3 linked regions of the Homo sapiens genome follow. The protein of the gene in region 1 interacts with the protein of each later gene in a biochemical or structural test. Each region holds a gene or a part of one and is shown in the gene's direction. Other genes may lie near its edges. The genes, in order: CHCHD4, COX17 and CIAPIN1.

What was found.
Region 2: the proteins of CHCHD4 (region 1) and COX17 form a complex in vitro, tested with the Homo sapiens proteins (one study listed by IntAct).
Region 3: the proteins of CHCHD4 (region 1) and CIAPIN1 form a complex in vitro, tested with the Homo sapiens proteins (one study listed by BioGRID).

What each region holds. Positions count from the first base shown.
Region 1 is NC_000003.12:14,118,117-14,121,870, reverse strand, and holds part of CHCHD4 (mitochondrial intermembrane space import and assembly protein 40), read left to right. Parts: intron 1-3,754.
Region 2 is NC_000003.12:119,669,549-119,673,302, reverse strand, and holds part of COX17 (cytochrome c oxidase copper chaperone), read left to right. Parts: intron 1-3,637; 3' UTR 3,638-3,754.
Region 3 is NC_000016.10:57,433,632-57,437,385, reverse strand, and holds part of CIAPIN1 (anamorsin), read left to right. Parts: intron 1-653; coding exon 654-730; intron 731-3,173; coding exon 3,174-3,342; intron 3,343-3,754. UniProt on the Homo sapiens protein: Component of the cytosolic iron-sulfur (Fe-S) protein assembly (CIA) machinery required for the maturation of extramitochondrial Fe-S proteins.

The sequences.
Region 1 (3,754 bases):
GTCTGAAAGCCATTTGTGTATTCTTCACAGACACTTGATTCTGTATGGGGGAGTTGTATCTTTCAAAGGGGTTAGATTCTAAACATGAAAGTCCTTAGCAGTCAGATTTATCAAACTCTTAGAAACCCCTTACCTCACTCAAAATACACCACAGGCACCACTCCCTCTGGCTTTAGATCTCTTTCTTGGGTTGAGCTTCAGAAAGTAGTGGTTGGAATTGTATCACAGGTGTATTGAATCAACTTAGCCAAAAACGAAAGAAAATAAGTCCTTAGTGCAGGTTGCCATTCTCAAACATGACCCTGGGGAGTCAGCATCCATGGGAGACAATAAACTGCTTCCTCTGCAGGACACAGGGGCATTCCTTCTGGGGTGGATGAGCTGAGAGATTCTGGTGTATAAAGATCCTCCCCTTTCATGGGGGAAATCAAACTACTCATCCAAGGGATTTTTTGGTCTCACTCACTTAATGGTGATAACCATTCTGTCTTCCTGCTTTCTGCTGGGACTGGGTGACAGAGCAGGAGTAGCGTCATCTCGGACAAACACTGGCACATTAAGTTCCAGCTCCCTTTCTAGCCTCATGCATTTCAAGGAAGTCACTTCTCTTCTAACTACAAGCAGCCAGAAAGAGCAGACAGTAAAACACAGACAAGACAGCTGGGACACAGAGGGAGGTGGGGGGAAAGTCTCTTGGGTGACTGCCAAACTTCACCCTCATACAATGGGCCCCAGTAAAACTGTGGGCCTTAATAAGCACATTCCTTTCCCTTCAGGTGTACTAAGATAGGGAAGCTAAAAGCAGTCTTGGGGGGATATGCCTGCAGCTGCAGAAAGATGTATGGAAACAGACACACCAGTCTGCCTCCCAGATAAGCACAACAAAGAGACACAGAAGCAGTCCAAGCCACTGATAAGCTCTCCCACCCTGAATCCTTAAAAACTCTTAGTCTGTAAGAGAGTGTGGCTCTGACCTAACTCAGCCAGCAGCCCCTCTCAGGTTTGTTTAAAATAAACCTGTCCCTGTTGACTGAAAAGCCACCCTTCGTGTTTCTCTCCTCTTTAATTCTTACACTTGGGTCTTCAAGCCCTAATCCAGAGTTGTTTCTCCATTCATTTTTTTCAACAAATATTGAACACCCACTTTGTCCTTGGTACTATTCTGGGCTCTCAGGATACTGCAATGAACAGAATAGACAAAAATCACTGCCTCTGAGGAGCTGACATTCCAGTGGGGGCATCAAGTGGTAAACATACATAGTATGTTGGGTGACGAAAAGCACTTTGGAGAAAGATAAAGCGGGATAAGGGAGATGGGCAGTGGTCAGGGACGGTGGCATCTGAGCAGGAGGTGAAAGCAGGGAGAAATCGCTGTGAGGGTACCTGAGGGAAGGGAAGGTGCTCCTGGAGGACAGAACACCCTGTGCAAAGGCCAGAGGTAGGCATGTGCTCAGCACATTCAAGTAAAAGCAGAGGCCAGCGTGGCTGGAGTGCAGGGAGTGATGGTGGGAGATGGGGTCGAAGAGGTGAGGGATGCAGCTCTTTCTGGATGTATTTGAAGATCGAGCCATTCCAATTTGCTGTTGGAGATGTGAGAGAAAGACGGGTTGGGGTGGCTCTACCGAGAGTAAAACTAAACAGCTGGGGGTGGAAGGTGTCTTTGTATCTGACTGCTCACTCAGTTCTGTTCTCAGCCCCACCCTGAAGTCCTGCACTCAGAGTAACCCCTCGGGCCTCCAGTTCCCCACTCTGACCAAGGTTCTGGGGTGGGGACTGAGTTGATTCTGGATGACCTCCTCCTTGTGCACTTTGAGTTCAGCTTTCTTCACTGGTTAAGTCAGAGAGCACTCGACCATCAGCTCTCCCATTTCCAAAACATTATTGACATCTCTGAGCCTGTGATTGTCTCTTTTCCTGGCCATGCTATCCTTGATGCCCTTTAAAAATTGCTGTCAAGTGGGATTCCAGCTGACAGCAGAAACTCATTTCACCTCCCCAACCACGTGAGGTAGGTAGGTGGAGCTGGTGGTAAGGCCTGGTTTCTGAGGCCCAGATGGTACCTGAGCTCATACAGTGGGAAGTGCTTAAGCCCAGATTTGAACTCCAGTTCTCAGACTCTCTGTGATATTGAAATATTGAAGCCACTGTGCACCAGAGGGTTTAAGGTAGTTTTCCACCTCCTTCAGAACATGCATATTCAACTGCTTTTAAAGCTTATCTTAGAAATAAAAACACAAGCACTTTTAAATTTTATTTCTCTAGAGAAATTGCTGACAAATGTCATGAGAACTACTAGTCTAGCTGATTGTCCCACTAGTTGGCATCTTACGACTAGTCTGACCAGTCCTTTCTTTCACAGTTAGGTCTGTTAGGAATAGGTAAGCCTTGTCCTTGCATCAGTCCTTGAATCGACTTTTAAAAGTTCCAGAAAGCAAAGGCCCTCTAGGACAGGCATACAATGGACAGTTTGTAGGGGACATACTCCAGATCTTTCAGACCAGAGTTCCTGTTCCTGTTCTGCCTTCATTTACTGCATGTCTTTTGGTCTGTTTCTCAGATCCTGTGGTCTCTGTAAAATGGAGATAAAGTAATACCCACCAGTGAACTCACAGATGTAATAAAACACATTGCATGGGACAAAAATGTGTAAAAGATACAGCTGTTACTGTTCTACTTTCGATCCAGTGTGAACTGTGCTGCAAGGGAAAATGTCCAGGAAGGCACATGTGAGGACCTGGCCCAGTGGGAGGGACCTGGAATTCTCAGTGGGATTGTGCTAGGCTGGTGTTTCCTAACCTGGCTGTGTATCACAGTCACCTGTGAAGCCCGTGAGCTACATGGACATGGCAGAGAGCTCGATTCAGCTTTTCTTGGGTGAGGCCTGGTCTCTCTATGTATGGCAAACCCCAGGAGGGCCTCATACTTTACCACGTTTGGACCCTTTGCTTTCTGTGCCTGTGACTGGGCCTCCCCGTTGGGCTGCGCTGAGCTGCCATCTCGGTAAACAAAACTGCCAGAGCTGAGTTGCGAAATTTGCATCAGCTCATTCTGCTTAGCGTTCAACATTTTTACAGATTGCTTTTGAGTATTTTGGAAACTGGCCAGAATAGTAGAATCAAGGTTACTAGGTACTTTAACAAGTCCTGGCTGCCTGGTCCAAAAGCTTTCCCCAGTCAGCCACAGGGGAAAAGCAGCCTTCTGTTGGATGACATGCAAGGTATTGAGGCAGAGGCCAGCTCTGGGAGCAAAAGCCTCCAGTGGGTTGGGGGTCCTGGCCCCGTGTGCTGAGGGTTTTTTGTTGTTACTCTGTTCTAGTGTAAGAGACCCTGTGCAGTGTGGGCATGGCGTAAGGCACCAAAGTGCCCTCCCTCTGTCCCCTGAACTGTCCTTCTCACTGGAGATGTCGCTCGGTTTTTGTTGTCACTGCCCCCTTCCTTCCAGAAGCCTCTTCCTTAATTACTTCAGCCCAAGCATGGGCCCAAACCTTTTTCCTTGCTTTCCCCTCAGCATAGCTGTGACTGAACTTTTCTAAATATAAACAAAAAGTATAAAGTGATCAGAGATGCCCGCAGCTTTCACAGGGCCACGTTTCTGCAGGTCCGGCCTCTGCGCCCACAGTGGCCACTCACTCAGAGCCATGCACTGTGGCTCTCTGCCAGGCACTTTTGGCCATACCTGAAGAAGTCTTCTTAAATGCTTGGCACCTCCTATCCCCTTCCAGATGAGGGTCCCAGTACCCCAGATCTTCTAGGAT
Region 2 (3,754 bases), about 110 Mb from region 1:
ACTACCTATAACAGTGCCTGGCTCATAGTAGGTGCTTAATGGAGGATTGTTAAATGAATGAATAAATAAGGAAATTAAAGCTTATAGTTATGAAATGGCCCCCAAGGTGGGTTGTGCAGTATCAGAACTGGAGCCTCAGTCTCCATGCCGATTCCCTCTGCTTTTTGCCCCTACCCTAACTTCCACACCACACTACCACTTTTAACTTAATAACAGCTGAGAGAGAATGCCAAAGCCATATGCCAATATATTAGTACTAGAGAGCCTGGCTTCTTTCCCTTGCACCTCTTTCCTGCCTCTTTGGAATTTCACATATGGCCAGTCTTCCTCACTGAGCTATAAAAAAGGAGGGATAAGGAACTTGTCGCAAGCTGATAAGAAGTTACTGTGTAATGGAAAACAGTCTAGGCTGAAAGTCCTGAGGCTTTGTTTTTATTCTCCTGATGTTTAGTTTATCATGTTTTTAAGTTTAGCTACATTTAGCTTCATCAAGACATTACTCCTCTGAATTTCACTTATTATTTATAAAAAGAGAACCATAATACATTTTGTGATTCTATATATAGTATGGTATATCTACTGTTGTGTAAATGATATACTTAAGTTGCTTTTAGAATAGATGGTTATTTAAAGAAATCCCATAATGAACTATTTTATAAAATAAGTAAATTTGAAGGGGAGTGTGTTCTTAAAAAGTATGTGTACTTTATTAACTATTTTTAAAGATGCAACCTTAACATTTGTACATGGTTTCCTTGTTCATGATCTAACTCCCTCGTCAGTTGTGTAAGCTGTAGGCTTGTGCTGAACTTGCCTTGATAAAAAGGGGTGATTAAATAAAAAGAAATGCTAATTTTAGGAATATCAAAAGCTTATCTTGGACTTCATCTGAACCACAAAGGTGGTACAATTGTTATAAGTGGCATATATTCAAAAGTATCATATGATATCATAGTTTTCTTTATGTTATCAGGGCAGAGAGTGAGAATTATGTTTGTGTACTTCATTTGTGTGTAAAAGAAAATGCAAAAGCTTTAGACTTAGAAAATCTACTGCTTAACTGATTGTGTGGTCTTGGGCAGGTCCTTAACTTTCTGTACCTTGGTTTCCTCATCCGTAAAATGGAGACAATAATACATGCCCAAACTACTTCATAGAGTTGTGATGATTCAATGTAAAATAAATCATCTGTAAAAACCAGAACAGAATAGCTCATACCTTTAGAGTTGTGGATAGCAGACATTCAGTTGAGGTCTGTTAAGTATATGACTTGATTATTATTGAATCCTGGTTACAAGAAGAACAATCTGAATCCATATAGGACCCTTCTGAGAATTCAAACTGCCATGTTTTTCATTTTCAGTGTAATAATATTTTGGGAAGAGGACTGGGTGTTGGATCCTTATTGGTCCCAGGTGTCCTATTTCCCCAACCTCCATGGGGAAATGGAAGCACAGTGAAGTCAAAAAAGACTTGCTCAAGTTAGGAGTGGATAGTGGTAGAATTAGATTAGAGTTAAGATTTTTATATTCTCTAAATCACAGGCACTTTACACTTCACGCCTTGTACTTAATGAGATTTTATTCCAACATATTCATTTTTAGGATTGCACATAATCTTGATCTTCAATCTTAAAACCTCATTATGAATGCTAATTAGAAAGACTTGTTGCGGAAATGTACAGTTGCATATAACCCAGTAAACAGGCCATTGGCTGGAGGGTGAAATCCAACACAACTGTCTGCATTGCTATAAGATAAACTTAACCTAAATCGGTATTTCTTAGACTGTTAGATCACATTTTTCTGAGAATAGCTTCAAAGGAAAAATATTTTGCAAACTTAGATCTCTCTGGCAACGATCATGAAAGTTCCTTAATTCAAAAACCTTTGTAGATTTTAATGTTATTCCTAAGTAGATCTTAATTGTACCTCAAGTGCAGTAGATTGGGAATAAATCTATTATACATTTTTTATACCTTACCTGAAAGTAGGCTACATTCACCCAGTGGTTCTTACCCAGAGGTGCACCTCAGAATCATCTGAAGAATGTTTTCCAGAATTCACAACTTGGGCCCTGGTCTGCACCTGTTGACTGAGAAACTCCTAGATGATTTTCAAGTGCACTCCTCTTTAACAACCACTGGCCTAAGTTGAAGATGAATAGCAGGGATAATGCTAGGCATAAAGTATCTGAAAATTTAGTAGTAGCAAAGGCAGAGACTTGAAAACTCAAGAAAAAATAGGTATGGTGGTGATTTTAGACAATTTTTTTCTATTTTATGACTGCTGCTTTTACTGAAAAGAGTAATTAGAAGAACCTAGAACCTCATTAGAAATATGAGGAAATAGATGGCTACTATCTTCCTGCCTTTAGGAGACAGAAGAAGCCTAAAGAACCTATTTTGGAGACTAAAGTCGTTGAAAGAAATTAAAGGACTAGTACTGAATAGTGGTGATACTCAATATTAAGTTTAACAACTTAACAGTTGGATGCTTAAAATATGCTGAATTGTACACACACACACACACACACACACACACACACACAAAACTGATCATGTATGAAAATATCCCAAGATAATCCAGAAAGAATAATTTCTGCCATTCAAACATTTGTTCATTCAGCAGATATTTATTAAGACCCTGGAAAATACTGAGGAGAGAAAGATTATCCCTCCAGTCAAAGACTTTACATCCAGAGATATAATCAAACAGGTTTAAATCCAGGGTCTTCCACCACACAGCCCCTTTTGTTATGTAGTCAGTCGCAAAAGTCGTAACAATGCTATGGGCTGCTATAATTGAAAGGTTGAATGGCTTCGTTTTTGGTTATCTTTCCAAACTTTTCTATAAATGTATTCTTCCTTTGAGTCTTTTAGAAAAGAGTTTAGATGTTTGTATCTTGATGTGGTTTATCTTTATTTAAACCAAATGAAGTGAACAGCTAAATGAAGGAAATATTTGCATTAGACTTGAAGAGTTAGCTACCCCAATTTAATTACCTTCCTAGCATTGTTCTCAATCTTCTGGGATAGGCACTGGGAGAGGTGTGAGAAGCCTGGTATTGACTTGACTGGATCAGCAACCCTATCTATGCTACTCTCCCTTTTTGATTTTTCCAAATGAATATTAAAGGGTTGCCCTTGTCTTGCCTTTGGGATTAAGTGAGTAACTTTCCACAGGAAGTGCCTTGGGTACTGAGCTGACCTTCTGCCTTCTACTTTGTGGATCTTCGCCAGGCATACTTGAATCAGCAAAGAGGGGTTTGCAGGTCTTGTTTCTTGAATATCTGTAAAAATAACTGCTTTAGCCTTTTTTGGAGGATATTTTTGAGAAATATGTATTTCTCAAACACACACATATGTATTATATATATATACACGCAGAGAGAGTTTTTACTTCAAAAACTTTTAAAGAGTAAATAATATCATGAATAATTTCACTAATGTTTTTAGTTAGGCAAACCTAGAATTTTAAAATGTTGATTTTGAATTTTATGACTGATTTGGAATAATTCTGGCAATTAGTTAATTACTCATCTGAGGCATTCATTTCTAGTGGTCTTAATTCCCTGACTCCATAGATCTGGCATGATGTTTGAAATCTGACTTTCTAAAATAAATATTTTTCTGTAGGTGGTCTGCTGTGTGAATAAATAATTCCTGAAGAATGAAGAAGATTAATTTTGGGAGTTCTTTGACGAACTTTGATATGTGGAAAAAGTATTTATAATTTATTGTAAGAAGAAAGTA
Region 3 (3,754 bases), on another chromosome or scaffold:
CTAGCCTACCTTAAACACGCTTAGGACACTTGCGTTAGCCTACAGTTGGGCAGAATCATCTAACACAAAGCCTGTTTATAATAAAGTGCTTAGTATCTCATGTAATTTACTGAAAACTGAAGTATACAGTTTCTACTGAATGAGTATTACTTTCATACTATCATAAAAGTTGAAAAATTATAGGTAGAACCATCATTAAGTCAAGGACCATCTGTACATTAAACAGAATAGGTTATTATTTTTTTTTTGTTTTTTCTTTGAGATCAAGTCTCACTCTGTTGTGCAGGCAAGAGTGCAGTGGTGCAATCTCGGCTCACTGCAACCTCCGCCTCCCAGGTTCAAGCGATTCTCGTGCCTTAGCTTCCCAAGTAGGTGGGATTACAGGCGTGTGCCACCACGCCTGGCTATTTTTTTTGTGTGTATTTTTAGTAGAGACGGGATTTTGCTATGTTGGCCCCAGATTGGTCTTGAACTCCTGGCCCCAAGTGATCTGTCCACCTCAGCCTCCCAAAGTGCTGGGATTACAGACATGAGCCACCACGCCCACCTGGTTATTATTGTTTGAATGCCTGCGAACCCATATAGGATTGAGCCTTTATTATTTTTCCTACTTTGAACTATAAAGCTATTAATTGGGATTTTCCTTTTGGCAGATAACAATAGCAAAGTGAAGACAGCATCTAAGCTGTGTTCAGCCCTGACTCTTTCTGGTCTTGTGGAAGTGAAAGAGGTACGTTTGTAGACAACTTTCTTTGCTGCCCTGCAGGTGAGGTAATCAGTATTGCTTAGAACTAGGAAACAAGAAATGCTGTGCATGTAAGATACATGATGCTTCAAAGGACAAAACTTGGGAGAATCGGCCGGGTGTGGTGGCTCACGTCTGTAATCCCAGCACTTTGGGAGGCCGAGGTGGGTGGATCACGAGCTCAGGAGATCGAGACCATCCTGGCTAACACAGTGAAACCCCGTCTCTACTAAAAATACAAAAAAATTAGTCGGGCCTGGTGGCAGACGCCTGTAGTCCCAGCCACTCAGGAGGCTGAGGCAGGAGAATGGCGTCAACCTGAGAGGCGGAGCTTGCAGTGAGCCGAGATCACGCCACTGCCCTCCAGCCTGGGCGACAGAGCGAGACTCTGTCTCAAAAAAAACAAAACAAAACAAAAAAAAACTTTTGAGAATAACCAACTTCAAAGAGACTCAGCTTGGCCCATGTGGGCTGGGGCTTGTTCTTGTCTCCTTGGTACTAGTTTAGTGGTGGTGACAGCTGAGGGGCATGAGCAGCAGCTCTGCTGCTTCCAACACCCACCTCTCAGTAGACCCGAATCCTAGGCCTGGGTGAACACTGCCATCTAGTTCAGCCTCACATTTTTGGTGGGAGGCTGGAATAGGTTAGAGGGCAAAGTTCCTTTTCTGACAATTCAGTGGAAATGTTTAAATTAAGCAGAAGTATTTATATTTCTACACTCTTTGATCTTAAAATTTTCTTGGATGTGGGAGAGGTAAATGTTACAGCATGATAGCTGTTGTGCCTGTTATTTCTTACATAATGTAGGGCCTTAAATTCTTTGTTTTTTAATTTTTTTTCTTGTTTTTGGAGACAGTCTCGCTCTGTTGCCCAGGCTGGAGTGCAGTGACACGATCTCTGCTTACTGCATCATCCGCCTCCTGGGTTCAAGCAATTCTCCTGCCTGAGCCTCCCGAGTAGCTGGGATTACAGGCGTGCGCCACCACACCTGGCTAATTTTTTGTATTTTTAGTACAGATGGGGTTTCGCTATGTTGGCCAGGCCGTTCTCTAACTCCTGACCTCAGGTGATCTACCCACCTTGGCCTTCCAAAGTGCTGGTATTACAGGCGTGAGCCAGGCCTTAGATTCTTTATGCCAGGCCTTAGATTCTTTATGCCAACCCTTTCTTATTTTTCCTTTTAGCTTAAGGTTTTCTGTGCTTGATTTTAAAATAAGGAATGTGTATTAGGCCATTCTTCTGTTCCTATAAAGGAATACCTAAGACTGAATAATTTATAAAGACAAGAGGTTTAATTGGCTCACTGTTCTGCAGACTGTACAGGAAGCACGGGCCTGCAACTGCTTGGCTTCTAGGGAGGCCTCAATGAACTTTTACTCGTGGCAGAAGGTGAAGCAGGAGCAGGCACATCACATGGCAAAAGCAGGATCAAGAAAGAGAGGAAGAGTCGGGGTGGGGAAGGTGCCATACTTTACAACCACCACATCTCATGAGAATTCAGATGGTGCTAAACCATTCATGAGAAATCTGCCCCCATGATCCAGTCACCTCTCACCAGGCCCCACCTCCAACATTGGGGATTACAGTTCAACATGAGATTTAGAGGGGACACATATCCAAACTATATCAGACTCCTCATAAAAATTCACTTTACACCAAAGCATACAGAATATAAAGTGACATCCCACTTCTTGCTCACACTTCCCTCCCCAGAGGAAGCCACCAATGCCTTTTTGTATGTCCGTTCAGACCTTTTCCTATGTATTTACAAGCATCTACATGCACATACTTTTTTAAAAATGTAAATAAGATCATAAGTATACATTGTTCAATCACCTTTTTTCCCACCCTTAGATATCATAGACACTTACCTACTTCAGTGTATTTCCCTTCATTCATATTAATGATGTAATAGTATTCCATACAATAGATGGACTGTGATTTATGTAACCAGTCTATAATTATTGGACATAGAGGTGGCACCCTGACCCTTTTTTTCTACCTTTACTCTCTGCTACTTTATCCCAAGGAACATAGAAAGGATTTTCCTCCCCCTTTTTCTTTTGGGATATAAATTTCTGCTGTCTTCATTGTGGGCATTCTTTCCTGTTACACAGTAGGACCACATCTGGTTCATTTTCATAATTGTATTACATCCCAAATAACTAGTATATGCCTCATCCCTAATGTTTTTTAAGTACTTTTACATTTTCCAAGGGGTAGGCTCCAAGTAAACATGCAGACAAAGGTTATACTCTAGGGTTCTGATCAGTGAGAAACTGAATGTGAGGCATAAAGTGTTATCTGTTACCATCCACTGTTACATCCTTAATGCACAGAAATGAGTCTTTGACTCCTGTGTAGGTAGACATAGTAAACCATTTTACAGAGGAGGGTGAACTAATCCTTTTGATGTCTTGAATTCTAGCTGCAGCGGGAGCCCCTAACCCCTGAGGAAGTACAGTCTGTTCGAGAACACCTTGGTCATGAAAGTGACAACCTGCTGTTTGTTCAGATCACAGGCAAAAAACCAAACTTTGAAGTGGGTTCTTCTAGGCAGCTTAAGCTTTCCATCACCAAGAAGTCTTCTCCTTCAGGTAAGGCTGGCCTAGGGACATTCTTCTGTTTGAATGGGCTTAGAGGGACATGTTAGAAATTGAGCCAGCAATAAATGAGATGGTGATATTTTTAGAGGATTAGTCCTTTGATTTCTGCCATTTCCACAAAGAAGAATACTTAATGTACTATTATCATGGGCATATTAGGATCCAAAACTGAAATAATACATAGGTATTATCTAGTTCAGCTCCTTCTTCTGCACCAGAAGATACCGAGGCCTCCTAATTTTACAGGACTGAGTCACACAGTTTAATTAATGAGGTCCTTCCAGGTCCCAGAATTAACGTTTCTCCTCAGAAGACCTCACAGTGTAGTGGTAATGGTGTATGAGAGTGCCCTGTTCCTGTTCTCATGTGCTTTTTTCCCCATGCCAGGAAAATCAGCTGTTCT